7 linked regions of the Homo sapiens genome follow. The protein of the gene in region 7 purifies or fractionates together with the protein of the main gene of each other region. This does not show direct contact. Each region holds a gene or a part of one and is shown on either strand. Other genes may lie near its edges. The genes, in order: IL36G, AKR1B1, GGCT, GM2A, A2ML1, ACO2 and ASB9.

Region 1 (4,210 bases), on a different chromosome or scaffold from region 7:
CCTCTTCTCCCTTTCCATCTTTCAGCATAGATTTAACTCCTTTAAGCCAGACATCTGTTGGGACCTGGCCCTCAATCATTGGTTACCAGTATGTCAGGCACTCTGGACTTTCCAGTGATGCCACTGAGATGGCACCTGTCAAAAGAGCAGTGGTTCTGTTTCTAGATCGTGGATCTTCAGATAAATTCTACCATTTTCATTTCACTTCCTGAAAGTCAGGGTTGGCTTGTGAAAAGTTTAAACCACATGCTAAATGTGAAATGTCAACTCTCACTCTAAACTCTCCCTGTTCAGAGCATCAGATGAAGACTTCATTGAGTTTTATAGTGGCTTTCTGATTTTTGGTAGTCCTTTGAACAAGGGAGTTTGAAGTTTGCTGCATACTCTTAACAATTGTCTGCCCATATCCTGCCTGAAATACCATGAATGTTTATGGAAAGTATCTTTAATAAAGCTGGATGCAGTTTGGCTTGGAAAAAAAAAAAGCAAAACAAGGACCTTAACTACTGACAGCCAGAATAAAAAGAAAAGTGTATTGCATGCACATAACTTAAAAGAGGCTGGGAATAAATATGCTTAGGAAGATGAGACTATTTCTTTTTTAATTCTAAAATTAGGTATTCAACCAAACACTTCTAAAAGGAAAGGCTTTTTAAATATTTTTCTTAGCTACTCACTTTTAGCTGCAATGTGGGCTGTTCTCCAACCTTCTCACAATACAAACACATTTCTGGATTCTGGATTCCCAAATAAATGGGATCCCCTCTGCCTTGCTCAAGAGCCTCTGGATACTTGCATGTGATAACAGCAACAGTGACTGTAAAGATAAGAGGAGAGATGGTATCAGTTTCCTTTTGAAGTCAGAAAGATTATTTGATTTAGCAGGGCAGTATCCTCAAGTGGATCTGGAAGAGAGCTGAAGAGTGTAATCCCAACTAGACCCACCAAATGGCCAACCCCCATATTCATTCATTCATTCATTCATTCATACCATGTGCCAATCACTGCCCTAGTAAATGAGCAAACACAGAGAGCTAAGCAGACAACAGAGTATGCTCTTGAGATTCTCACGCCTCTGCTTGAGCACATGGAGATGGGGAGCTCCTACATCAAGCAGCCCCTCTGATTCTTGGAGAGCTTGGTCCCTTTTGCAAGTTTTTCCCAATGTGATGCTGAAACCTGCCTTTCTGTGGTATTCACCCATTTAGTCATTTTAGGACACCCTGAAGTCATGCAGAACAAGCTACTAGTCTTCCATAAGACAGGGCTTCAGATGACTGACAGCAGCTTTCCTATTCCCTTGGAGGCTCCTCCACCATCTCTGGCTTCTTCATCTTAGTGGAACCCAAAGTTCTCCCTGACTTCTCTTCCCAATTAGGTGTGAAATTCTCCCCACTCCTGGTGGGCCCCATTGTAAAGTCACACTTTTACAAAAGGCTGATGCCAGCTTCCCAGCCACAGCAGTGCAAACAGTGGGGAAGGCACAGGGTGACCACTCACCTGGGGTCACACTGTCACTTCGTGGAACTGCCACAAGGTTCTGACCCTGAAGGGTCCACACTTGCTGATTCAAATCATTAATAGTCCCAGTAATAGGTTTACACACTGATTTTGGGATAGAGAAAAAAATGAAGAAATATTATAATCAAGGCTGCTTTACTAGACCCAGGAGAAAAGTATCTAACCCAGGCCATTTTGTAAGGAAGGTGTGGGGTTTGCATCCCCAAACTGACAGCACTCACATCACCCATCAGCCTAGCCTTTCTTTCTAGTGAAGTTGTGAGCTCTGGTGAGGAAGGCAAGGGCTACCAAGGGAAGTCACTGGTTTAAGAGGGCAAACTATCAAGACAGAGGGCAATGAGCAGTCTCACAGAACCTGTGTGCCAAGGCCCAGCTACCCTCTTTTGTGCCTACTCTGTGCTTGGCCCCGGTGCTGGGGACTGGAGCTGGATCAGTGACTAAGCAATAGCTCCCACCCTCCAGAAGCCCAGGGCCCAGTGGTAGGTGGGCAGCACCAGGTGGGAAGGGCAGTGTACAGAGAGGAGCAGAGAAGGCTGGGGCTTCCACAGGAGATAGCGTGAGTGCAGAGGGCCTAAGCCTCCAGAGCCCCATCCCAACAGCATTTGATTCACTTGATTGATAGACGGCCCTTCCTCCACCATCAGCGTCTCCTGGAGTGCCTCTCATAGTGTGGTTGTCTCAGCACCTGTGAAAGCAGACATAGAACAGATGAACCACAAGAGATGTTTCCAAGACCTTCCAGGACACTAGCTCCACAGGCCCTCATTCTAGACAGGGAGCTGGGAAACCTGGCCTGACACGAAGCTCTGGGCAGAAGTTCTGAGCCACATCTGGGACGAAACTTGAAGGAAGCATCAGCAAAGGGAGAACAGGTAGAATTTTCCTCCACCTGGAGATCCAGATAGTATGGTAGTGTCTCCCCTAGGAGTTCGAAGGCCAGGCATAAAATTTGACCTTAAATAACCCACAGGCACCTGATGCCCTGACTCCTCTTCTCTGAAGCCTCCACCCCTTCATCGGCATTGTTTTTGCCTAGGAGCAGGGGAGGGTCCCATGCCAGGGCCACTCTGCCAGGATCCCAGCAACTCCCCAGTAAGAAGCAGCCACACATAGGACAAAGCACAGAGCCAGCCTGATGTGGCCCTTCCCTTCATTAAGCCCAAAGCACAGATGAGAGGAAAGGCTCCAGAGGGAGGGAGAAGAGGTTTTCCAGCTATTGACTATACCTGGCAAGAAAGGGTCTTTATCTACAGTCCAGGGGACTGAATCGTGGCTCCAGCAGCTTCCAAGGTCAGTGATGGGTTCTAATGGAGCCTGGATCATTTATCTGGATGAGCAGAGAAGGAGGCTCCAGCTTCCTGGGTGGGGCATGAGAAACGTATGACATGAAAGAAAACCAGCTCCTCCTACCAGAAGATCCTGTGAGGCTCGGAGGAAGAAATCACAGAATTAGCACAAGTATCACCTGTCCGGGCTCGCTGAGAAATAAGTGTTGAGCCAATCCGCACAAAATCAACCACAAGGAAATGAGGTTGATGACAGATCCTAGGTTTCTCATAAAGGGGAAACTAAGGGAATTTCCCAGAGTTCAGCTCTCCTGTCATGTCATTCTAGAGCTAGAACTGGAAATGCCAGGCACTCTCATGTCAGGGACTCCATCTCCTGGGACTGGGAGCCTTGCCCTCTGCAGTCAGGCTAAAGGCATCCTGTAAGAGCAAAATTAGCCACACGTCTCAGGCAAGGTCCCTGTGGCATTTCTCAACTACCCCACCTAAGGCCACACCTGAATGGAAAGCCAGGCAGTAGAGCTCCCCTACCTAACACTCTTTCAGCTCCATCCACATGGGGAGCCACAGGGACTATGCAGACTGGTCTTTTAACTGAGGCAATCCTAGTTTCAGGTACCCTCAAAATGCAGTGGACTCCAGAACTGCCTAAGGAAGTAAAGAGGTGGGCAGCGATTTCTCCCAAATCTGAGCCCCAGATGCCAGCTTATCCCCCACCCTCTGCCCTAGGTTCCTGATCAGTGGTAATAGTTATTTTTATATCTTGTTTATACACCCCATCCTATCTGCTGTAGCCAAGCCTAAAAATTTACTGAGGTATAAGTTAACTACTAGAGTGAAGTGAGTTTTAGGAGACAGACTTGAAGCACTAACAGCTTCAGGTTTACCCATCTATAAGGAAGAAAAGCACAAAGAATGAGACAGAACCTTCCAGATAAGCTCATCCATGAGCCCCTCTTCCCAGCCCTGCAAAGAGTCTCCTGACTCAACGTCTCTTACTTTTCACCCTAATCTCCTTTCTGGCCTTGGAAGAACACAGTCCTTTCCTGCCATGGCCCCAATTCTATCACTTTTGGCTTCCAGTGTTTCTGTGACCCTAGGAAAGAGTGTGGTAATGCCAGGTGCACTTTTGTTCAAAGTCAACCTGAGCCAGTGCCACCTCACTTGAGTCTCCATTGCCCTGTTAAAAATCCCCTCCATTACACATCAGTCAACATAACTCCTTTCTTGGGATGTTCACCACAAAACAGCATCTAAAATTCCCATCATTTGACCCCCCAAATCCCTTAAGCCTGAATTTCCAACTGGGATCCCTCTGAAAGCAGAATCCATGCTAGGAATTGCAAACAAAGGGAATTGAATAAAAGGAACTAGATACACGTGTGTTGGAAAGCCAAAGAAGA
Region 2 (4,332 bases), on a different chromosome or scaffold from region 7:
CAACCTCCACATCTGGGGTTCAAGCGATTTTCCTGCCTCAGCCTCCCAAGTAGCTGGGACTACAGGTGCGTGCCACGATGCCGGGCTAATTTTTTGTATTTTTAGTAGAGACGGGGTTTCACCATGTTAGCCAGGACGGTCTCTATCTTCTGACCTCATGATCTGCCCGCCTCTGCCTCCCAAAGTGCTGGGGTTACAGGTGTGAGCCACCGCGCCCGGCCCCAGGGAAAGGTTTTAAGTCATTAAAAAAAAAAAGGAAGTTGATTCCAAGTCCATCCTTATACCATTACTTTGACCCACCATTCCCCGCTGCCCCCACCGTACAATTCTACACCAACCTGATCTCCTCATCCACAGGAATACAAGTGGGCGTTTTCACCATACAGCTATCTCTAAAGTCGTTTTACTTCTTCATATGAATTCAACACATAACTTTTGGATACCTACTCCTATATTTGCCAGGCACTGTGAGAAGTGCTAGAAATAGTAATGAATGAAGCAGACATTATCCAATTTCTCAATGAACTCTGTCTACTGGAATGCATAACCTAAATGTACAGATGTTATGATGTGATGTTATCTTAAACAAATACATAGCTTTTTGGGGCATTGAGTGCTCAAGTGAATAATCTGAAACCCTCTTTCATAAACTTTTACTCCTCAGCCTGGACAACATAGGGAAACCTGTCTCTACAAAAAATTAAAAACAAACTACCCGAGTGTGGTGGCACACACCTGTGGTCCCAGCTACTTGGGAGGCTGAGGTATGAGGACCACTTGAGCCCAAGAGGTTAAGGCTACAGTGAATCATGATCATGCCACTGCACTCCAGCCTGGGTGACACTGAGCCCCTGTCTCAAAAAAAAAAAAATAAACTTTTACTCCTTATTTACCCTAGAGTAGTGATTTTCAAATGATGGGTCACAAAACTAGCTTCTGGAGGTATGACAATAATTTTTGGAAAAATGGAATAGAAAAAAATATTGAAATGCAGCCTACATAGGTTAAGTACTGTTAAGTAATTTTTATTCCAGTTACATGTATATATCTGTGCGTTGCATCATGCTTAGAAAGTATTTGCTATTGCCAAGAAAGCATCCTTCTGCATCCATTCCAAGAGCATAACATGCAACAGATGGAAATTAGCTTGGTGTCATGGTTGTAATTCAATTACAACCTTAGAGACACCACTGGAGTTTTTGGAGGAAACAAATCACGTACCCTGATCATTCTGGCCAAGAAACACTCTCCCTGATGCAAATGACCTTTTTCTTACCTTATATTTACTAATTTTCAACAGCAGGTTTTAGGGTACATGTAAACTCTTCTGTCCTATTTCAAACATCTCACAGTTCACTCAGTTCTTTCTGTTGTTTTCTTCCCTTGTCTGTGTGTAAATATCCAACGCCCAGGCCCATATTCAAATTTTAAGAGAAAAACCTGGGACGTGGGCCTGCCAGATGGTTCACACCTGTAGCTTTGGGAGGCGAGGTGGGAGGAGCGCTTTGAGCCCAGGAATTGGAGATCACCCTAAGCAACAAGCGGAGACTGTCTCTGCGGGGAAGAAAAAAGATTAGCCAGGTGTGGTGGTGAGCGCCTGTAGTCCCAGCTACCCGCAGTGCTGAGGCAGGAGGATCACTTGAGCCCAGGAGTTCCAGGCTGCAATGAACCATGATTGTGCCACTGCACCCCAGCTTGGGCAACGAGACCCTGTCACAAACAAACAAGCAAACAACAAAAACAGAAACTGAGAAACCCAGGTTATGGCTGTGGAATATAATATGCAATACTTAGAAGGTTAAAAATTCTAGGTTTTGCCTCAGCTCCCATACCACCACCTTTGTTGCTCAATTTTCAGATAATCAGGCTCAGGCTATTATTTTTGGTTTTTCATATCATATTATCATTTTTCATATCCTATGATGTTTCATGTCCTATTGTCATTCTCATCCGGCTAGGCACTTCTCGGGGACGCTGTGTGGTGTTGAGGTTTTACAGGGAAAATGCTAACCTTGGCGCCTCCTGAATTATCAACTAGCTACGGGGTGCCCAGATTTTTCTCCCGAGTTCCAGACCCAGGGCACCCCGAGGCGGCGCCTGGCCGAGGAGCTCCGCACTGCGCCTTGTTAACAGCTGGGTCCGGGCAAACTCGCGCCACCTAATTCTCTGCCCTCTACCGGCTTGAGATGCTTATTCCTCAGGGAGGGCAAGAATCGAAACGATTGAGACCAACTATTTACAAGTGAGGCAACCGGGCTACAGGTGCCTCGAGGGAAAGGAGGCTGGGTCTGCGCTCCCACACCTTGCCGACGGCTCCACGTCCCTGTCTGCGCCCGAGGTCCACCGGTCTGTGAAGCCCACTTTCCCCGCCTCCCTCTCGCGTTGTGCCGCTTGGGGCGCCCGCTAGGACCCAAAATGCGGACTGGTGGGCCGCCCATCAAGGGTTGCCCGCGGTAGGGCGGGGGCTCCCGTGAGCTGCTCCCAAACCCCACTCGCAGGATGCTGCCCTGACGCCCAGGGCCAACCCGGGGAGCCAAGGCCCCCGGTCTCTGCAAGGCCGACCCCAGCCCGCTGGGGACCCTGCAAGCCCGCGCGTGGCTCCCAGCACGCCGGGCGTCCGCGGGGCGAGCTGCTCAGGGTCACTCGGGGTCCCTCGCCAATACAGGCCGCGCGGAGAGTGTGAGGCGAGCCCCGGGCCCGCGCCCCCACGAGCACCTACCTTCCAGGTACCCAACCCCAGGATGGGCATCTTGGCGCCGTTGTTGAGCAGGAGACGGCTTGCCATGGCTGCTGCGCTCCCCAGACCCCCGCCCAGTACGGTGCGGCCTTGGCCGCGGCGCGTACCTTTAAATAGCCCGTGAGGTCGGCAGAAAGGGCGCCTGCGGTTGGCGCGCCGCTGCGCGAAGGAGCCTTCTGATTGGTTGCGCTGGGGGTGCCGCGGCGGCCTTCCCCAAGGGTCGGCGGGGATGCTTCTTCCGCCTGGTCCTAGTGGCAGCGGATTCTTTCCGCCCCCAACGCTCGCCCGCGCCCCGCGTGGCAGAAAGGAGTTCCTCAGCTGCTGTATCTGGTGGGAAAGCGAATGCTTTAGCGAAAATAACAGGCATCCCATAAATACATAGACTAGAAATAAGTTTTGGTTTCATTAAGAGCCCAGAAGAATGCCTTTGTTGTCCAACCCCAGTTTGATGCTCTTTGGGAATCTGACGAATACCTTGTCCTTAATCTATGTGAATCATACTGACTACACATATAGTTTACCGCACTTTGTTCTTAGACAAAGGTGCATGCCAGAAAAATGGCTTGCAATCCTTTTGCAAAGCACCTTCACAAAATATGGGTTTGCCCAGACTTTTTGTAGCCTTCTAGATCTCTCTTTGCACCCCACTCTAGGTGTTAGCTGTGTCTGTGCATACTAGGTGTGGTTCAGCAAGCCTTCCACCAAAAGCCAGCATCCTTTGATGTTCTTGAGGTTAGAAAGCCTTGATGGGCTTGATCCAGAACTCTCAGAAGAATTTGGAAAGTAAGGCTGTCCATTCAGAATCAGTAAGACAAATTTCATCAGTCTTTGGAAAGTGAGACTCTATCAAAGCAGTAAGTTCCAGTACAGTAACTTATCAAAACTCTCTAGAGGAAGAAAAGTGAACAGACAGAAAACCACAGAAGAAAAAGTTGACTCTAATATTGTAGCTTCCAGTATTTCAAATTAGAAGGTACAAAATAGTAAATTGATCACCCTAATTGGCAGGTAGAAACACACATTTTTCCAAGATAGCCTAAGAAAAGTCACTTGAAGATCCTTGAAGACAATTTTGGTTTCTTTCCAACAACCTCTCTTCATGATACTCTACCTCACCCCAACTGCTCTTTCTGCTCCATCACCCTCCGATCTTTCCCCTAATTATGCAAGATTGGGAACTCCATCTGCCTGGTAGTGACTCAAGCACCAGGTCTCTCTAAACTCCATGCCGGTGATTTTCCATTTGGTGCTTTCTTTAAAAGTGCTCCCTCCTGGAAAAATTTATACAGAACAGACTAGCCCAGATATTTTTCCATGTAACTTTTGTAAAAATTGTTGCTATTGGGCAAATTCATTTGTCCCCAAGTAATAGAATTTGAACTTGAGCCTAAAGCTGGGAACTTGCTTTGTGTAAAACAGCAAGTTCCTTCCTCCATGAGAGTCCTCTTGACTTGGAGGTTGCTCTGCCAATTGAACCTCCTGGGTCCAAATCCAAAGAGCTAATCTCTTGTGAAAATGATACACCTTGAGTGGCCAGGTTGGTACACACAGAAGGGTCGTCTGTTAGGGACATGGACTCAATATCAGAGGCTTTG
Region 3 (4,124 bases), on a different chromosome or scaffold from region 7:
TTCATTCCTCATCTTGTTCCACTTCTCAGCGGAACATAGGTAACCACCTTCTCCTGATCTGCCTCTTTCCTGATTTTCAGGCTGTTCCTTGATCTCAATCCCCTTTGCCAACTCCTCCTCCATTACCTGATTTTTAAATGTTGGAGTTGCTCAAGGCTCAGTCTAGGCCATGGGTGTCCAACCCTTTGGATGCAAGAACTTTTTTGCTTACCTGTGGTGGCGGACATCACAAAAATTATGCATGGGCCTTTTTTTTGTTTTTGTTTTTGTTTTAGCTCATCAGCTATCATTAGTTTTAGTGTATTTTATGTGTGGCCCAAGACAATTTTTCTTCTTCCAGTGTGGCCCAAGGAAGCCAAAAGGTTGGACACCCATGGTCTAGGCCATTTTCTCTATTCATTTGGCAATTTGCTCAAGACATTCTCATCCCCTCCAATGGCTTCAAATATTCTGATCATCTTTAAACCCAGACCAGATCTCTCTTCTGAGCTTCAGAAGTGCTTAGAACAGGGCCTAGCACACAGTAAGTACTTAATAAATGTTTGCTAATATTATTCTGTTCACTTGACTGTTTAGCAAGCATTTCAAATTCAAAATGTTCAAACTGAACTTAAAATTTTCTCCTCCCAAGCCGGATTTTCCTCTTTTCTCTGCAAACATCACCTGCATCTACCTGGTGCCAAAAACCTGAGTCATCTTTGGTATTCTCTTCACACTCAATCACTATGCTTTAACAATGTTATCTCCAAATTAGTTCTCAAATCCATCCACCCTGCCCTGCCACCACCCTAGTTCAAGATGCCATTCATTATCTTTGGCATAAATTGCTGCAAAAACTTCTTGAACTCTCCACATTCACTCTTCCCTCCTTCAAATCTATTTTCCATGTGACCAGAATGGGCTTTTGGAGATAGAAATCTATCTTTCATGTGCTTTAGTTCTGCAGTGTGTCTTATTTGGCTTCTGTGGTCCTGGAAGATGTGGCCCTTCCACATATCTCCAGTCTTCATGCCACATTCCCCTTACTAAACTCCAGCCACACTGACTGAAAGATCCAGCTTCCTCTTTCTTCAGGTCCTTTGCAGAAGATGCTGTTCCCTGTTTTGTGTGCTCCCCACCTCTACAATCATTCAGGTCTCAACTTAAAAGTCACATTTTCAGGCAGGGCTTTCCTGAGCATCCTGGTTAGGTCAGGTACCCTGGTCATACGCCCCATTGCACTTTGCATGCCTCCTTTTTAAGATGGACCATATACCTGTAACTGAATAATCCCTTGTTTAATATCTCTTCCCCTTGCCCTGACTGTAAGCATTTGGACTCCCTTCCTACAGTTGGGAAATTCCCTACCTTACGAGTTTGGGAATAGGGAGTATCAGAGCCTGACTCCCATTTTTGAGGCTTCAAAGGCCAGAAGCTGGTTCTCTCAGTTTTGCTTAAAATCACGGCATGGGTACGTGGCCAAAACTTAGCCAATCGGGACATTCTGGGGCTTTCAATTAGAAGCTAGTGCCCAAGACAGCAGGGACTCCAGAGAGGCTGACACATTTGGGTTTCAGGAACTGCAGGGATGTACAGAGGCAGGCAGTGTCCAGGGCAGGGGGTGGTGGACAATACAGCATCCACGTTTACCAAGTTCAGCAGTGGCGTGGAAGAGGCTCCGTGGGCTGGTTCTGTTGTGTGATGCCCACTGTATTACAGTTGCTGTGCCTCCCTTTATGCTTGTCCGTTTTGTCAGCTTTGTACTCCTGCCTTCCTGGTCATTCTGTGAGCTCTCCAATAGCCTTTCAACACATTCTTTTTTTTTTTTTTTTTTTTTTTTTTGCTTAAATCAGCCAGTTTCTGTTGCTTGCAACTAAGAACTCACGATGTTAGCAGAGATCATGTTTGTCTCATTCGACGCTGTCAAAAAGGTTTTGAACATAATCTATTGCACCTCTGTCCTACAGACTGAGAGTTCCTCGAAACAGCCACTTTACTCAATCATGTTTATACCCTTAGTGTTAAGTGCCGGAAGAATATGTACTAAATGAATGAATGGACTGGGCTGAAGAGCAATGATTTACCAACACTGGTTATAGTTCATGCAGCCCCTTGACCTAACTGAACACAGCATTATTACAAATAAGACATGGTCCCAGCTTTCAGGACCTCTTAGATGAGGAGCGAAAGGCAGGTAAACGGATTTTCACAATGCCAGGTGAGAAGTGCTGTAACAAAGGTTATGTACAGAACAGAAGGCAACCAATTCCCAGACACGGGTCAGAGAAGACTCTCCAGAAGTACCAACTGTATGCAATCTGTTAAGTTAGTGGACGAGAGGCCAAATCGGTGCAGACCGAGCAGCCGGTGCAAAGGCCAGGAGGGGGAAAGCTCCAGGCAGCCCGAGAGGGCACCGTGGCCCGGGCAGGGCCGGGCAGTGGGCGCAGCGGAGGAGGTGGACCCGCCCAGGAGGCGGAAGCCGCGTCCTAGTACCCTCATCAAGAAGAACTGCATTCCTGGCCCGATCGGCCACGTGTGCCCCCGAGGAAGCGCCTTCTGGGCATCCCGGCCCCGGCGTGGGTAGCGCGGGAGGGGGCACTCACCTGCAGGCGGGCCACACAGAAGAACGCCGCCGAGGGGTTTCGGAGGTGGATCCTCTCTGTCAGCAGGTTGCTGCCGTAGGCAAAGTACAGAAAACTCTCCTCATCTGGACCCGTGACGTCCTTGCAGCCCGAGTTGGCCATATCCCACTACGCCCCTGCACTGGAGCCTGAAGCAGAGTGTAAGGAACGGCCAGAGAGCGCAACACTGGGGCCCACTACCCCGGCGCAGTGACCGCCGCGCGGCAGCCTCAGGGTTAGGGGACTGGCGGGAAGCGTGGGCCGGTCGAGTCAGGAGCGAGCGCTCTCCTGATTGGCTGCCGGTCCCCACCGACCTGAGTCGCCCCCTTTGATTGGCCATCCCCACGGCCTTCCCTCCGCCTTCCGCCGAGACTCAGAAATAGTCTGTCCTGAAGCAATCCGGCGCTGGCTCCTCATTGGACACGACCTACTGATGTCCCGCCCCTCCTTGCTCAAGGCTTCCTCTGATTGAGGGGTGGACAGGCACTCCTCACAGGCGGGTCGGGTCCCATGGACACTGGCTGAAGGTCGTGGCGCGTGACTGGTTTCTTCGCTCTGGGGTGCTTGTGTGTGGTTCTTTGGTACTTTCTGTGCCTTAGGAAGTTCTGGTCAGATCTGAGGCGAAACAGCGGCCCAGGCGACTCCATCAACGGCTCCCTCATCCGGCAGCTCGCCGGGTCCTGCCTTCCTGGCCTAGAGGAGTCGGGCAGGACGGGTCCGTTCACCCTTTCTGCTGGTTCCGGCACCCCCAGCACTGGTCATCAATCTGACCCCTTTCCACGGACCCGTCGCCTGCTGGAGCGGCCCCTCTGAATGCTTGGGACTCCCTTCCCTGTTACATGGAAGTTACATGCCTGGGCTTAAATCCCGACGCTGCCATTTACTAGCCAAGTAACTTTGGGCACCTCTGGTCTCCGTTTCCTCTTTTTAAAAATCGGGATCATAATATAAGTTAGGGTCACAGTAGAAACCCCTATATTGTGTTTTGGTTACCCCCTCCCACACACACACACATCCTGGGTGTATTTTTTAAAACCTATATTGTTAACTTTTGAATGAACATAAGGGCATAGGAACATTGTCTATCCTTGACACCCAGCTATTAATCTCTAAATACCACCCCCCACTAAAAGGTACCAAGTGATCCTTCGAGAAATGACTGATGCCAGGTCAGGAGCTAGGAGTGAATGAGGACAACTTGGAACATCTTGTGTCAGAAGCTCAGGACGCCTCTCAAGACGAACGAGGTCCTTCTAAAAGGACATGGGAACCAGCCTGAAGTTGCCCACTGGCCAAAATTAGAACAATTTGAGAATCAAAAATAACAATGACTGCAAACTGAAAAATGATTGGAAACTTTAAACATAAAAAAGCCATTCCCCCCAAAGAGTAATCCAAATTAAAAAAAAAACTATAACTTCATTTGCCACACTATTGGTGGTGACTATTACACCAACTTTACTCTGCAAAGTGATAATTTAAGAAAACAAACAGGTATTCCGCCTTTCTAGTAGCAGCTGTATT
Region 4 (3,560 bases), on a different chromosome or scaffold from region 7:
AAAAAGGTTATAAGTGTAAATTCCAGGGCAAACATACCAGCTCTTCTGTCTTCAAAAAAGCAGCAATATATTTTAATCATAGAATTTTTAACTGGATGAGATCTTAGAGATAGTCTGTTCTAGGAATGGCAACATTGTGGCCCATGTGTGAGTATAGTGTATTATTGTGCCCATGGCAGACATTAATAATCAAATGTGAATTTTCCCCCTACACTGAACTATACATAGACTTAGAATTCTTTTTTTTTTTTTTTGTATCATGGCTCACTGCACTCACTGCAGCCTCAAACTCCTGGGCTCAGACGATCCTCCTGCCTCAGCCTCCCATGTAGGTGGGAAACACAGACAGGCACATGCCACCACACCCAGCTAATTTTGTATTTTTTGTAGAGATGGGGTCTCACTTTGTTGCCCAGGCTGGTCTGGAACTCCTGGCCTCAAGCAATCCTTCCACCTCCACCTCCCAAAGTGCTGGGATTACAGGCGTGAGCCATCATGCTCAGTCCATAGTCTTAGAATTCTTTAGGTAGTCACTACCCATTGATTGGCTCTAACACTTGCATTGAAATGCACTTGTCATCTAACTGCTAATTGGTTAACTGTGGCATTGTTTCCTGGGCTTTCCTTCTGAGCCCAGTCGTGGCCCCAAAATCCTTTTCTGCATAGGACTTCAGGTAGTTACTACCAACTGATGAGCTGGTTACCAAAATGAACCCAACTGGCTGCTCTTGGGTCACATTTTCTCCGTACAGCCACAGAAGACAGAATTAAGAACAATAGGAATGTATAGAAAGATCACCTTGAGACTGGTATAAAATCATAGCTAGGTTACAACAGATGGAGCTGCCTCAAGGAGTACGGGCTCCCTGACTCAGCCGGGAAAGCTACAAAAGACTCTTGTGCCTGGAGTAGGGCTGGGTGAGAAGCTCTAGAACACACTTCACACCTCCATACTGTCATGACTTTGCTCCCGTTTTGGAGGCTGAAGCTGACCAGGAGGAAGTGGCCCAAATTTCATGGTGGACATCCCAGTTGTGCCGGGCACGCGCTGAACAGTCACCATGTGTTAGTTGCCTCTAGTGCCAAATGAGTTGGCTTTAGAACCATGTCCATCACCCACCAAAGGTATCAAGGGAAAACTCTCAGGAAAGAGCACCAGGAAATTAGCTTTCTCAAATATCTGATTCCTTGTGCGTGTTATGGCAGGAAATCACATTTTTAGGATCCCTTTCAGCTCTGACATTCTAGCATTCTAGGAATCCCAGCCTCTAGGCTCACTTTATTTGGGGCTCTGTTTCTAAGAGATTAAATCCTGGATGGGCACTTATGTCCTAAGAGGCTGCTGGGCTCAGGCTGGTTCCCAGGCCACGGACTCAAGTCTTCCAGATGCCCCAGATGTCGAGATATTAGCTGCCTTCCTCCAGGCCCAGAAAGAACAAAGAAGTTAGCACATCCTGTGGTCTGAGTGGACAAATTCTAATTGCTCCTCTCACTGGCCTCATCTGCTCCTAAGACATACCCATTATCTCCACCACTGGCCACACAGCACCCTCTCAGCCCTCCTCTCTCTCATCAAACCTGCTTCTACCCCGCTGCCTAGGAAAAGTCAGAGGGCCTAGGTTGGAATGCTAGTTCTGCCACTTCCTAGTTTTATTGTGCCCTTGGGTGAGTTACTTAATCTCTCTCAGTGGCCATTCCCTCACCTTCTTTTTTTTTTTTTGAGACAGAGTCTCACTCTGTCACCTAGGCTGGAGTATAGTGGTGTGATTTTGGCTCACTACAAACTCTGCTTCCTGCGTTCAAGCGATTCTCCTGTCTTAGCCTCCTGAGTAGCTGAGATTACAGGCATGAGCTACCACGCCTGGCTAATGTTTTTGTATTTTTAGTAGAGATGGGGTTTCACCATGTTGGTCAGGCTGGTCTCAAACTCCTGACTTCAAATGATCCACCCGCCTCGGCCTCCCAAGGTCCTGGGATTACAGGCATGAAGCACTGTATCCAGCCTCGCCTCATCTTCAAAAGTGGGATATTTTAGAGTGCCTACCTCTCTCACAGGTCCCATTGAGAGGGAAATACCAGCACTTTGCACAGTGCCTGAAATCAAAAGCTTCCTCCTCCATGACTTCTGCCCTGCCTTTTTCCTTAGCCAATACTCTCTCCTTGTGTCGCCAATACCCTAATGAAAATGTTTGAGCCAGTTATGCCCTGAGTGAGAACACACAGTGGAGGAGGCCAGTAGGGGGACAAGTCCTGCCAGGGCTCCTCCCACCAGGCTGGAACCTGTAGGGCTGCATCTACCAGAAGAGGTAGTGGCTCCCTCATCTCTACTCCTGCCCCCAGCACAGGACCAGCACGACACAAGAAGTGTACTGAACTGAAGTCAACAGAGGGTTCTAAGGCAGCAGCCACACCTACCATTTGGAAATTACAAATGATGGCTCATTTCTTATTCTCAATCTATTTGCTACTATGACTCAGAAAAGGAAGCAGGGTGGAGTAATGAGCCCAGGCATGTATATGACTTTGGGTGCTGGGGGAGCCAAGTTACCAGGCCTGAAAGGCTGGAATAAGTACATATGACAAATACAGTGACAATTTACAGTTCTTGAGGATGGGAAAACCAGGGTCCCACAGGCTGGAACTTGAGGGAGGGCTGGGCATTGGGAGTTATTAACTATGCCAGATCCCATGGAGCAAGTCAAAAGAGAAAAGGGAGCTCCTGAGCAGGCCCCAGTCTTACCCACGGCCATGGAATCCGGGACATTTAACTTTTAAAAATTGCAGCTGGAGTCAAATCCAGCCAGGTCCCAGATTTGACTTTTGATTAAAGAAATTTCACTACAGCAAGATCAGAGAAAGAGAGGATGGCAGTTGCTTTCTTGGGTTTGGGCAGTCACTCTCCTCTGGGCCTCAGTGTAACAAGGGGTTGAAGCCCCATGGACCCCAAGAGTGCTCCAGGCTCATCCAGAGCTTAGTTCTGGGCAGCTCTCATAAGCAGGTCTGCTGGGCAAGGGGAGAGTTCTGGAACTGAATCTGCAGCACTCCTCTCCCCTCCCCTGCAAATACACCAAGCACCAAGTCTACCTCCCTGCCAGTAAAAGCTCAGGAACCAAACCCCAAGATAAACATACCAGCCTTGTCCATGCTAACAACTAGCTTTGTGACCTGGGTCAAGTTGCAACCTTTCCTGAGACCCTTTGTCCCTCATCGGCTCTTCTCCCTAGCAAGTGGTCAGAAGAGCTTTCATCTAATAGTTGATATGCACATATCCTGAAAAAAGAACTGAACCAAATAAATAAATAAATATATATATATATACGAGAAATATTGGGAGCCGGGCCTGGTGGCTCACGCCTGTAATCCCAGCACTTTGGGAGGCCAAGGTGGGCAGATCACCTGAGGTCAGGAGTTTGAGACCAGCCTGGCCAATGTGACAAAACCCCATCTCTACTAAAAAAGTGCACGCCTATAATCCCAGCTACTCTGGAGGCTGACGCAGGAGAATCCCTTGAAACCGGGAGGCAGAGGTTGCAATGAGCCATGATCGCGCGACTACACTC
Region 5 (3,560 bases), on a different chromosome or scaffold from region 7:
CATAATGTCTCCTGGGATCCAAAAGGAGAGAGAGAAGGTAGGGGTACAGAGAAGAAGGGACCCTCTAAGAGTTATCATCATTCACTGAACAAACACGTATTAGCTATCATTTAATAAGTACCTACTATGGGCCGGGCGTGGTGGCTCACGCCTGTAATTCCAGCAGTATGGGAGGCCGAGGAGGGTGGATCACCTGAGGTCAGGAGTTCGAGACCAGCCTGACCAACATGGACAAACCCTGTCTCTACTAAAAATACAAAAAAAAAAAAAAAAAAAGTACCTACTGTGTGTCCTGGGAAGACCACAGTAAATCAAACTCGGTCTCTACCCTCAAAAAAACTCACAGAGGAGCAAACCATTACAACACATTACAATTTTTATTCATTATAAACAATTTTAATACAGTACTACAATGTCATACTGGATATGTACGAGGTGCTAGGGGACACGGAGAGGCACATAAGCTATCTAAGAGAGTTCAGGGCTTTTAAGAAGACATGTCACTGAGCTGATGAGTGATGTGACAAAACTTATAACACTTAGGATCAATCTCTTAAGCTCCTCTACCACTGCATGTACGTTCCTCACCCTCCAAATCACCAAGTTTCTCTAAAACACAGTTCTGACACTCTTTTCCAAGTTGTCACTGACCCCTTCATATACTTCCCAAGCCAGTGAACCTGACATAAGTGACTCATTAACATCTGCATTGTAGCCAACAAGCTCAATTCAATCTATAAATGTGTCCTGAATGTCAACTATGTTGCAGGAACTGTACTAGGAACACAAAAGAAAAAGATGTGGCCCTTCCTCTTCAGGAGCCCCCAACACAGTGTGGAAGACAGATATAGACAGTGAACTCTAATACAATAAGATAAGTGCTATGTCAGACTTACGAATAAAATAGACAAAACAGAGACACTGTGACTGCAAAGGATCTCAATAGAGGGTGAGGGAGTAAAGAAAGAGCCTAACATTCATAGGGCTCCTACTACATGCTAGATATTGTGCTGGGGACTTTATATTGCATTTAATCTTTACACCAGTCTGAGAGGTAGGTTATTATCACTGTTTTACAGAAGAGGAAAGAAGGCCCAGAACTGTTCACTAACTTGTTCAGGGTCACATGGCTATTAAATGACAGGTTAGATATGATTTCTACGTTCATGCTTTTCAACCCACTTCCTCCCTTGCCCCAAACAGTAAGTGTGCTGCCTATTGTAAATATGGTTGTATCTTCCCTAAACTATACCCAAATTCCTCAGTTTTGAAAATGGTTGCTGCAAATATTCTGTTTTCCCTTCACCCAATTTATAGACTGTCTAAACCTAAAATCAAGCATCAGCGACCTTACCTTCTTCCTACCCTGACTCTCTTCCATTTTTAACTAGAGTACAAGTCTAATCCCATCTGTACTGTTGCCTACACTGTATTTCCCTCCTATATAAAATACGCTCTTTTTCCTTCATCACTTGTTATTAGTTACACTCTCCGGATAGGTCCGTATGTCCCGCCCCACTCCACACCTTTGCAGCCTCCATTCGCCTTTTCCTTTCTGAGTCAAGAATCTCTAACTGCTTACCCAGAACCGTAACATAAGCCTTGGTCGAGTCAGGAACAATGTCCACTGGGAGCTCCAGGGAGACAGATTCAGATGCCACCTTTCCTGTGAGATGCAGAAAAAAAGGTGACACAATAGAAGATGGGGAATGGCAGGGGTTCTCAAGACAAAATTTTAGAAGAACTTTCTATAATCCAGGGATTTCTGTACTCGGTGCTTTCTCTGGGATGCAGAAAGCACTGGGTACTATTCATAGTGATCTTGCTGAAAATAAATTCCACAGAGAGTCATCATCGTGCTGCACACTTTCTCTTCTTCCTCCTGCCTCCCAGTTAATCAGCCCCATGAGGAATGGCACTTCAGACTCTCCTATTCCTTCTGGTACTATGCATTCCTCCTTTTGCCTATGAAAATCTCCTGCTGCCGGGTGCAGTGGCTCACGCCTGTAATCCCAGCACTTTGGGAGGCCAAGGCAGGAGGATCACAAGGTCAGGAGTTCGAGACCAGCCTGGCCAATATGGTGAAACCCCATCTCTACTAAAAATACAAAAATTAGCCAGGCATGGTGGCATGTACCTGTAGTCCCAGCTACTCAGGAGACTAAGGCAGTAGAATCACTTGAACCCGGGAGGCAGAGGTTGCAATGAGCTGAAATCGTGCCACTGCAATCCAGCCTGGACGACGGAGCGAGACTCCGTCTCAAAAAAAAAAAAAAAATGAAAAGAAAATCTCCTGCCCTCTAAGGGAATTCTCACCACCAATCCTGCTCTGAGTCCACCCACCTTTTGGGCACAGCAATGAGCTGTGTGTCTTCTCCACCAGGACTCCCTCAGGCTGCGATGAAGAGAGACACAGATAAAAACAACAAAGATGAACATCAGGAGGGATGGCACTAAAGGAAAGGGAAGGGAGGCCCCTCGCTGTGCCCCCAGGGCTTCCCTCAGAACTGCAGACAAGAGCTTCTCACTGAAGCTCAGAAGAACTCTGCGTCAACCCAAGGATGGGCCCTTTCTGTAAAGTTCTTTCTGGGCAAGTGCTAGAGCCAAAGACACATTTAGGCAACTTCTAAGAGGCAAGATTGACAATGGGCTTCATGATGGGACGAAAAAGGCAGCTATTGATGAAGACAGACATTTTAATTAGGTAAACTAACATTTGTTGAGTGCCTATGAGGTGCCGGGTTTTAGGTGCTTTCATAGGCCGTGGGTGTGGATTAGGCAAATGTTCAAGGGGCCAGGGAAGGAGAAAGTTGAAGCTGCCTGGTTGGACTGGAGTATGGTTGCTGTGAGAGACTAACTCACAGCAAGACGAGATGCTGAGCATCCCTCGGTTGGTTGCTGTCTCTACCTCTGAAGAAAACTCACTTTGACGAGAACTGGCTTGATGAGCGTGTCACTTCGGCCCTTTTGGGGAACAAACCCCTTCTGGCCCCCACATGGTTCATTGCTGTCCAGAATCTTTGTACTAATAGTAAAGTTAATGTGACCTGAGAGAAAGAAGAAGGGAAGCCATTAGCCCTATTGCCAGAGGTACCAGTGAGGTCCATTCCCATTTGGATCAGCATTTCTGAAACTTTAATGGGGATCTTGCAACAGTGCAAACTCTGCTGCCATAGACCTGGGGTGGGGCCCATATTCTGCATTTCTAACAAGCTCCCAGGTGATGCCAGAGAGGCTAGTCCAGTGTGGTAGGTAACCTCTAAGGGCCCTCAGAGATCCCTGCATCCTGATATTTACATCCATTGAGTGTGAGCTGGATTGAGTGACTCGCTTCTGTTAAAGAGAACAGGGTGAAAGTAATGACTCTTCTGGGATTAGGTTACAAAAAAGACTGCAGCTTCCATCTTGGGTGCACCCCTTTTCTCAAACTGCTTGCTCTGGGGAAGACAGCTGTTGTGTGATGAGGCAGCCCAGCAGAGAGATTCATGTGATGAGATACTGAGTGAGGCCCCTAGCCAAAAGCTGAGGTCAAGAACTGTGTCCTTCAGTCTAGCAGCCTG
Region 6 (3,560 bases), on a different chromosome or scaffold from region 7:
GGTCTAGGAGGAGGAGGAGCTGTGAGAGGCCAGTGGCAGTGACCCGGTCTCTGTTCTTGAAAACTGACAGATACTCCTGTCTATGTCTGGAGCTAATGGGCAAAGTCTTAGTGTCATAGTTGGGTAGCCAGGCATCCCAGGCCTGAGGTGTGGAGGGTTGTAGATGGCGGACAGGGTGGACAGGTGAAGGGGATGCTGGTCCTGATTCCCTGTGCCTTAGTGGGGCTGAGGGCACAGAGGGAAGTAGCGAAATCTAGCTGTGAACTTGGTCACTCTCCTGAGCCTGTTTCTTGGTTGTTGTTAAATGGCTTTCTTGGTTGTTGTTGTTGTTAAATGGCAGGAATGATGAGATATGCATGTTGCGGGGACTTAGTAGGAATTACGATGCTGGGAAAGCCAGGATCCTTTGAAAAGAACCAGCGCTGCCCTCTTGTGATGTTGTCATTCACTTACTCATCAAGTAATTGTGGAGCACCTAACAAGTGCCAGGTGCTGCAGGAGGTGAGGAGGTGGTGCAGTGAACAGGACCCAGCAGTCCCCACCCAAGTGGAACGTTGAGGTCCTGAGTTCAGACTCCCTGTCCCTGGCCACTGTTGAGGTTGCCACATGGACTGAGAGGGAGAGGCAGGGCGGGAGGAGGCCGTGCAGCTAGCACCAGGCCACCCTTCTGCTCTTCTCCCCACAGACTGAACCGGCCGCTGACACTCTCGGAGAAGATTGTGTATGGACACCTGGATGACCCCGCCAGCCAGGAAATTGAGCGAGGCAAGTCGTACCTGCGGCTGCGGCCGGACCGTGTGGCCATGCAGGATGCGACGGCCCAGATGGCCATGCTCCAGTTCATCAGCAGCGGGCTGTCCAAGGTGGCTGTGCCATCCACCATCCACTGTGACCATCTGATTGAAGCCCAGGTTGGGGGCGAGAAAGACCTGCGCCGGGCCAAGGTGAGCAGAAGGTGGCTTTGGGGGTGGGCAAGTGGGCAAGACTGGGCGAGAGGCCTCACCCTCACACTGGAGCAAACCAGGGCATTGCCTCCAAATTCTCACACCTCTTTGGATTGGTCTGCTTTTAAAACTTGATTTTACTTGTTTCTCTTTCTAAAAATAGCACTTGCTCATTATGTTAAAAAATACAGAGGAAGCCTAAAGAAAGAAAAAATCATCCTTGACCTTACCACACTGCAGGTCCTTTTTCTGTCCTGTTGGAGGATGATGTGGATCCTGCCAGGTGCTCTGGAAGGGGCCATGCAGGCCTCCCTGTCTGCCTGAGCAGTGAGGGGTGCATCTTAGCATAGTTTGCCAGCATCCCATTTGCACCCACTCCCGCTCTCCTCTGACCCTCCAAGGACCCTCTCCGGGAGGTAGGCGTGCTAGGGTCACTATTTGTAAATTTGAGGCGGCAGTGGCATCATACTTGAGTTCTGTAACTACATGAGGGCACGATTAGGGCTCAATGCTGATCCTGGCTCCCACTCTGGTGCTCTGTCACTGAGGAGCCTCCTTTGGGGGCCATTCTTCTGTGAGTTTTGCTTAACTACATGGGGGTGGCTGTATGCCATGCTGAAGGCTTTTCCCCCACCCTTCTATGAAATCGAGTTCCTGCTCCTTCTCCCAGGCTCGGCTTGTGGGACCTTTGTGTCAGCCTGCTCTTGGCAACAGCGGGCCTCTCTCTCCCAGCTCTGGGCCTCCCCACTCTCCAGCCCCTGCAGTGGGAGTGGGTCCCCCTCACGGGGAGGGGCGTTGGCAGGAGCTGAATGCTGGCAGGGCTGCGGCCTGTGGGCATGTGATTGAAAGTGCTCCAGCTCCCAGGGTCAGCATGGCTCAAAGCCTCCCAGCCCCATGGGAAACACTCGGGGCGGCGCTCTCACTCAGACCCTCTCTTCCACCCTGGCCCCCTGGTGGTATCCTGGCTCCACAGTGGCTCTTTCCCCTCAGCTGAAAGGACAGTCCTGCCTGCCGGCCGGCGGTTTCCACATTAGCAACAACACTGGTGGGGGTAATAATGTTACAGGAGCTCCCACAGTGCCGGGAACTGCACATGGCCGGGAACGTGGGTCCTCTGCAGCCCTGGGGACAGCTGCCCACAACAGGGCTGCTACCTTCTGGGGCTGGCTTTCTGCTTGCTTTATGGGCTCAGAGTGAATCTTCTGGAGATGAGATGCACACTCATAGCATTCAGAGCTCATTCCCTCATGCGTTCAACAAATTGAACATTCTTTATGTGCCAGGCACTGGGCTAGGTACTGAGGTTCAGTGTGAACAAGTCAGGCAGGGGCCCTGCCTTCAGGGATCTGCTTGTGGGTGTGGACACTAAACAATGGCCGAGGTAGGTAACTGCAGATCTGGGTATGTGTTAGGAAGGGAAAGTGCGGGACTTGGTCAGTATAAAAAAGAGGTCTAATTTAGATGCTGGGGGAAAGAGAGAGCTTCTTTGAGGATGTGACAGATAACCTGAGGACTGAACATATGAGTTGCATTGACTGGAGGAAGAACATGCTAGAAAGAACAGCATTTGCAAAGACCCTGAGCCAGGAAGAAACTTGATGCTTTTGTGGAAGTGAGAGGGGGCCTGTACTGCTGGAGTTCTCTGTGTTTGGAAGAGCGGGTGGTATGAGGTGGGCAGGGGCAGCCAGGAACGCGAGGGCTGTGGGAACGCTATGGTCACCATCCTCAGAGTCCTAGAACAGTTTAAGCGGAGAAAGAATATGGTCTTTTTTTTTTTTTTTTTTTTGAGACAGAGTCTTGCTCTATCCCCCAGGCTGGAGTGCAGTGACACACAATCTCGGCTCACTGCAATCTCGGCTCACTGCAACCTCCGCCTCCTGGGTTCAAGCGATTCTCATGCCTCAGCCTCCCGAGTAGCTGGGATTACAGGCACCCACCACCATACCTGGCTAATTTTTGTATTTTTACTAGAGACAGGGTTTCACCACGTTGGCCAGGCTGGTTTCAAACTCCTGACCTCAGGTGATCCACCCACCTCGGCCTCCCAAAGTGCTGGGATTATAGGTGTGAGCCACCACGCCCGGCCTAGAATGTGGTCATTATTACGTGTATTTGTAAAGTGTCCCTCTGGCTAGGGCTCAGAGGCAGTGACCTGTCTAGGGTCACAGAACCAGAGATGGATCCAGGCTGAGTCCAGGCCGAGACTCTGGCACCAGTCTGGGGTCCTCCCACACCCCTTCCTCACACTTAACACAGACGTGTAGTCACATGCGCCCAGACACGACCACAGCCTCCTGTCCTGGATACCAATTTCATAAGTGACCGATTTGTAAATGAAAAAGCTGATGTATTAATTATTAATTGGAAAGAGACTGCTCTGGAAACCCACGTTCTTTGCCATTCTCTTACCTGGGGGAACCCAGTGGGCCTTCAGAGGGCACACACTGGTCTGGAGTTTCAGTGAAGGGGTGTGTGGTTTGAGTGTATCTCATCAAGGGTCCGAGGGCACTGGCTGAGGTCCCTTCTCTGAAGCATCGCTCTCCCATGCCGGAGGCTGGCAGGTCCCATTTCCTAGTTCCTCCTTTGAGACTCAGTAGAGTCCACTAGAATCCCACC
Region 7 (4,287 bases):
AGGCGTGTGCCTGTAGTCCCACCTAGTCCCTGCCTCTCCCTCCTGAGGCAGAATTGCTTGAACCCAGGAGGCCGAGGTTGCAGTGAGCCGAGATGGTGCCACTGCACTCCAGCCTGGTAACAGAGCGAGACTCCATCTAAAAAAAAAATATATATATATATATAATTATATATATAATTCCTTGTAAAAAGTGGCCGGGCGTGGTGGCTCACGCCTGTAATCCCAGCACTTTGGGAGGCCAAGGCGGGCGGATCACGAGGTCAGGAGATTGAGACCATCCTGGCTAACATGGTGAAACCCCGTCTCTACTAAAAATACAAAAATCAGCTGGGTGTGGTGGCGGACGCCTGTAATCCCAGCTACTCAGGAGGCTGAGGCAGGAAAGTCGCTTGAACACGGGAAGGTGGAGTTTGCAGTGAGCTGAGATTGCTCCACTGCATTCCAGCCTGGGTGACAGAGTGAAACTCCACTTCAAAAAAAACAAAAAAAAAAAAAAAAAAAGAAATTCTTTGTGAAAAGTGATTTTTGATGCCACTCTTGCTTTCCTAGTTCTCCAAACTCATGCTCAATACATCTGCTGATTAATCCAGTTCTGCCTTTGTGGATCTAAATCCCACTCACCATTGAGTACTCTGCTCATTTTATAAGTGAAATTGGATAAATGAATGAATGAATGAGCAGGCTAGTCTACTCAGTCAAAGGGAAGACGTTTTGTGTTTTATTTCTTCCATTTTTACCTTTTTGGTACCTGTATAGTAGATTAATAAACCCTGACTGACGGCCGGGCGTGGTGGCTCACACCTGTAATCCCAGCACTTTGGGAGGCCCAGGCGGGCAGATCACCTGAGGTCAGGAGTTCTAGACCAGCCTGGCCAACGTGGTGAAACCCCGTCTCTACTAAAAATACAAAAATTAGCCGGGTGTGGTGGCGGGCGCTTATAATCCCAGCTACTCGGGAGGCTGAGGCAGGAGAATCTCTTGAACCCGGGAGGCAGAGGTTGCAGTGAGCGGAGATCTCGCCATTGCACTCCAGCCCAGGCGACAGAATGAGACTCCGTCTCAAAAAAACAAAACAAAACAAAACACCCTGACTTCAGGGTCCCTGTTTATTGCCCCTTTGATCAACAGGTGCTGTGGACAGTATACCAGGTATATATTTTTTTCTTTTTTCTTTGATACGGAGTCTCACTCTGTCGCCAGGCTGGAGTGCTGTGGCGAGATCTAGGTGCACTGCAACCTCCGCCTCCCGGGTTCAAGTGATTCTCCTGCCTCAGCCTCCCGAGTAGCTGGGATTACAGGCACGTGCCATCACACCCAGCTAATTTTTGTATTTTAGGTAGCGACGGAATTTCATCATGTTGGCCAGGATGGTATCCTGACATCGTGATCTGCCCGCCTCGGCCTCCGAAAGTACTGGGATTACAGGCGTAAACCACCGTGCCCCGCCTATATATACAGGCCTGAACCCGGGAGGCGGAGGTTGCAGTGAGTCGAGATCGCGCCACTGCACTCCAGCCTGGGCCACAGAGCAAGACTCCGTCTCAAAAAGAAAAAAAAATTAATAAATAATAAATACAGCAATTCAGCAGGGCTGCTGCAACACCAGCTTTCCCAGCTCTGGGTGCTGGGGCTTGTCTCCGTCACAAGCCCCCAAGGATCTCAACAGGGTGAACAACAGTTGCAGAAAGTGAGCTGTTGCCTTCACCCTCACCCTGCTGCTCCCTTTGCTCTCCGAAAGTTACGAACTTTGAGTTTCCTTCCCGATAAACTCCAAGGTTTCCTCACTGATTGGTCTCAGTTTGGGAAAGGACGTGACATCAGCAAGTTTGCAGACTTGGGGCTGGAGAGTTAACCAGTATATTACTAACCAATATACTATTATTTATAAGAACCTGTGTGCAAATGCCTAAACCCATTTTTCAGAATCCTTTCAGCCAACAGGCACCTGCTGAATGCTCACCGAAGTGTGTATTTGTGGGATTCTGTACATTAGCACAGACACCACTTGACAGATGAGAACAATACCTGTAAGATGATTCTCCAATGTTTTAAGTAAAACAAAGTCTCTTTTGTCTCTTTTGAAAGTGACTCAATCAGTGCTCAATGTTTGAACATCTTTATAAACCCTGCCCCACCTAAATGCCAAACACCTAAGACTTACAAATTAAAAAGTTTTAGCATTAAAAATTTTCCTATTTATAAGTAACTTTCAAACCTCCAATTTAATAAATAATGCATTTGACCCACAAAGAATGATTCCTGGGAGCTGAAATTTTCACTGGAGAATAATTTGTGACAATTGAATTTGTCTTGTCTGTAGGATTCTGCAGAAAGAAGTATACACATTTTTGAACAGCTGTGTAAAGAATATATACCAGTGAGCTGTGGACATCTGCCCAGTAACAGCCCCATGGACACCTCACACAGAGCCACTGAAACTGCCCAACCCTCCTCTCCTAAGCACATTAGCCAACCTCCCCAGGGCTGATTCCACTGCCCCTATGACTCACCGCCCATCAATGGGTTTGAAAGAAGCCTGATGCCAGGAAAGTCCCTTGGCCCCGCGGGCTTGCTCCCATCCATGCCCCCTTGTTTGCCATCCATGATGCTCTCTCCTAAGCGAGCAAGCTCTGCGCTCCACTTCAGTTGCTCAGCAAAGTCCAAACTCCATGCTCCCCCTGCTCCTGAAAAATTCCAGTTCTGTGGCTGGCTGAGCTGCACACGTTCTGGTCAAATGGTCTGCAGCAAAGCACAGAGCAGGCAGGGTAATCTGAGTGCTACCTGTGATCAGAGAGAGGCATGCGCTCGTGTACACACACACACACACACACACACACACACGTTTTACCTAACTGGCTGGAGGCCCGCCAGAGGCCACAAGAACCCTCCAGCCCTAAGTCTGCGAAGTTGCTGATGTCACGTCCTTTCCCAAACTGAGACCAATCAGTGAGGAAGCCTTGGAGTTTATCAGGAAGGAAACTCAGTTTGTAACTTTTGAGAGTGAAGGGAGCAGGGTGGGGGTGAAGGAAACAGCTCACTTTCTGCAACTGTTGTTCACCCTGCTGAGATCCGTTTGTTACATGGTAGCTTGTTATGGAGACAAGCCCGAGCACCCAGAGCTGAGAAAGCTGGTTTTGCAGCAGCCCTGCTGAATTGCTTGCACAGTAACATGCACAGCACGCCCTGGCCATCTGTACATGTGCTTTCAATTGTGCTGGGAGTTTCTTATGGGAAATGTGTCTATATGTTACAAAAAATGTACCTTTGGAAAGAACCATTTGTTCCTTTCAGCTGCAAGAATTTCACTAAATGTCCTACCTCACCCCTCCTCCACTCATTTTAACTTCTAAATAAATAATGAACGGTTGCAATTGGAAAAATGGATTGCTAGGTGGCCTGAGATGTGGAAGAGACCTGCTATCTTTTCATTGTGAATTACTAAAATTTATTTTGTTAACGTTTTGCTGTTTTTGCTTATACAAAACATTAGGGGCCGGGCGCGGTGGCTCATGCCTGTAATCCCGGCACTTTGGGAGGCCAAGGCGGGCGGATCACGAGGTCAGGAGTTTGAGACCAGCCTGACTAACATAGTGAAACCCCGTCTCTACTAAAAATACAAAAAAATTAGCTGGGCCTGGTGGCAGGCGCCTGTAATCCCAGCTACTCGGGATGCTGAGGCAGGAGAATCGCTTGAACCCAGGAGGCAGAGGTTGCAGTGAGCCGAGATCATGCCACTGCACTCTAGCCCAGGCGACAGTGCGAGACTCCACCTCAAAAAAAAAAAAATTTGGATGTACTGTGTCCATGTCTTTTCAGATAAACCCAGTTGCCTCACACCCCTGGGTGCTACTTCAGGCTGACAGGCACCTCTAGACTCCCACCATTCCTCTCTTCCAGGTAGAAGAGGATTTTTCATCCCCATGGGGGAAGGCTCTGAGTTAAGTCTCAAGCATAGACTGGCTGTGAAGTGATTGCAGATTTGTCTTAATGCCAAAGATGAGGCCTAGATGTTTTAGATTTACGGAGTCTCAGTTAAAACATTTGGTGGCTGTTATTAACAGTTTGAGGGGTGTAATTCACGTTTTTAAAGGCATTTATATGCATACACATGTATGCACATTTATCAATTTACATTTTCCACATAAATGTACCTATATTATTCTTTTTTTTTTGAGACAGGGTCTCACTTTGTCACCTGGACTCGAGTGCCATGGTGTCATATCGGCTCACTGCAACTTTCACCTCCTGAGCTCAAGCAATTCTCCTGCCTCAGCCTCCTGAGTACCT

The links.
Region 1: the proteins of ASB9 (region 7) and IL36G purify together in Homo sapiens (co-immunoprecipitation; one large-scale study listed by IntAct). This does not show direct contact.
Region 2: the proteins of ASB9 (region 7) and AKR1B1 purify together in Homo sapiens (affinity purification with mass spectrometry, with the first as the bait; one large-scale study listed by BioGRID). This does not show direct contact.
Region 3: the proteins of ASB9 (region 7) and GGCT purify together in Homo sapiens (co-immunoprecipitation; one large-scale study listed by IntAct). This does not show direct contact.
Region 4: the proteins of ASB9 (region 7) and GM2A purify together in Homo sapiens (co-immunoprecipitation; one large-scale study listed by IntAct). This does not show direct contact.
Region 5: the proteins of ASB9 (region 7) and A2ML1 purify together in Homo sapiens (co-immunoprecipitation; one large-scale study listed by IntAct). This does not show direct contact.
Region 6: the proteins of ASB9 (region 7) and ACO2 purify together in Homo sapiens (affinity purification with mass spectrometry, with the first as the bait; one large-scale study listed by BioGRID). This does not show direct contact.

Annotation. Positions count from the first base shown.
Region 1 is NC_000002.12:112,976,616-112,980,825, reverse strand, and holds the start of IL36G (interleukin-36 gamma), read right to left. Parts: upstream 2,821-4,210; 5' UTR 2,748-2,820; intron 2,207-2,747; 5' UTR 2,188-2,206; coding exon 2,133-2,187; intron 1,606-2,132; coding exon 1,501-1,605; intron 818-1,500; coding exon 678-817; intron 1-677. UniProt on the Homo sapiens protein: Cytokine that binds to and signals through the IL1RL2/IL-36R receptor which in turn activates NF-kappa-B and MAPK signaling pathways in target cells.
Region 2 is NC_000007.14:134,456,278-134,460,609, forward strand, and holds the start of AKR1B1 (aldo-keto reductase family 1 member B1), read right to left. Parts: upstream 2,824-4,332; 5' UTR 2,786-2,823; coding exon 2,720-2,785; intron 1-2,719. UniProt on the Homo sapiens protein: Catalyzes the NADPH-dependent reduction of a wide variety of carbonyl-containing compounds to their corresponding alcohols.
Region 3 is NC_000007.14:30,501,987-30,506,110, forward strand, and holds the start of GGCT (gamma-glutamylcyclotransferase), read right to left. Parts: upstream 2,844-4,124; 5' UTR 2,724-2,843; coding exon 2,583-2,723; intron 1-2,582. UniProt on the Homo sapiens protein: Catalyzes the formation of 5-oxoproline from gamma-glutamyl dipeptides and may play a significant role in glutathione homeostasis. Induces release of cytochrome c from mitochondria with resultant induction of apoptosis.
Region 4 is NC_000005.10:151,263,142-151,266,701, reverse strand, and holds part of GM2A (ganglioside GM2 activator isoform 1 precursor), read right to left. Parts: intron 1-3,560.
Region 5 is NC_000012.12:8,853,615-8,857,174, reverse strand, and holds part of A2ML1 (alpha-2-macroglobulin-like protein 1 isoform 1 precursor), read right to left. Parts: intron 3,048-3,560; coding exon 2,926-3,047; intron 2,396-2,925; coding exon 2,344-2,395; intron 1,667-2,343; coding exon 1,583-1,666; intron 12-1,582; coding exon 1-11. UniProt on the Homo sapiens protein: Is able to inhibit all four classes of proteinases by a unique 'trapping' mechanism. This protein has a peptide stretch, called the 'bait region' which contains specific cleavage sites for different proteinases.
Region 6 is NC_000022.11:41,507,106-41,510,665, forward strand, and holds part of ACO2 (aconitate hydratase, mitochondrial precursor), read left to right. Parts: intron 1-685; coding exon 686-944; intron 945-3,560. UniProt on the Homo sapiens protein: Catalyzes the isomerization of citrate to isocitrate via cis-aconitate.
Region 7 is NC_000023.11:15,267,271-15,271,557, forward strand, and holds the start of ASB9 (ankyrin repeat and SOCS box protein 9), read right to left. Parts: upstream 2,814-4,287; 5' UTR 2,605-2,813; coding exon 2,511-2,604; intron 1-2,510. UniProt on the Homo sapiens protein: Substrate-recognition component of a cullin-5-RING E3 ubiquitin-protein ligase complex (ECS complex, also named CRL5 complex), which mediates the ubiquitination and subsequent proteasomal degradation of target proteins.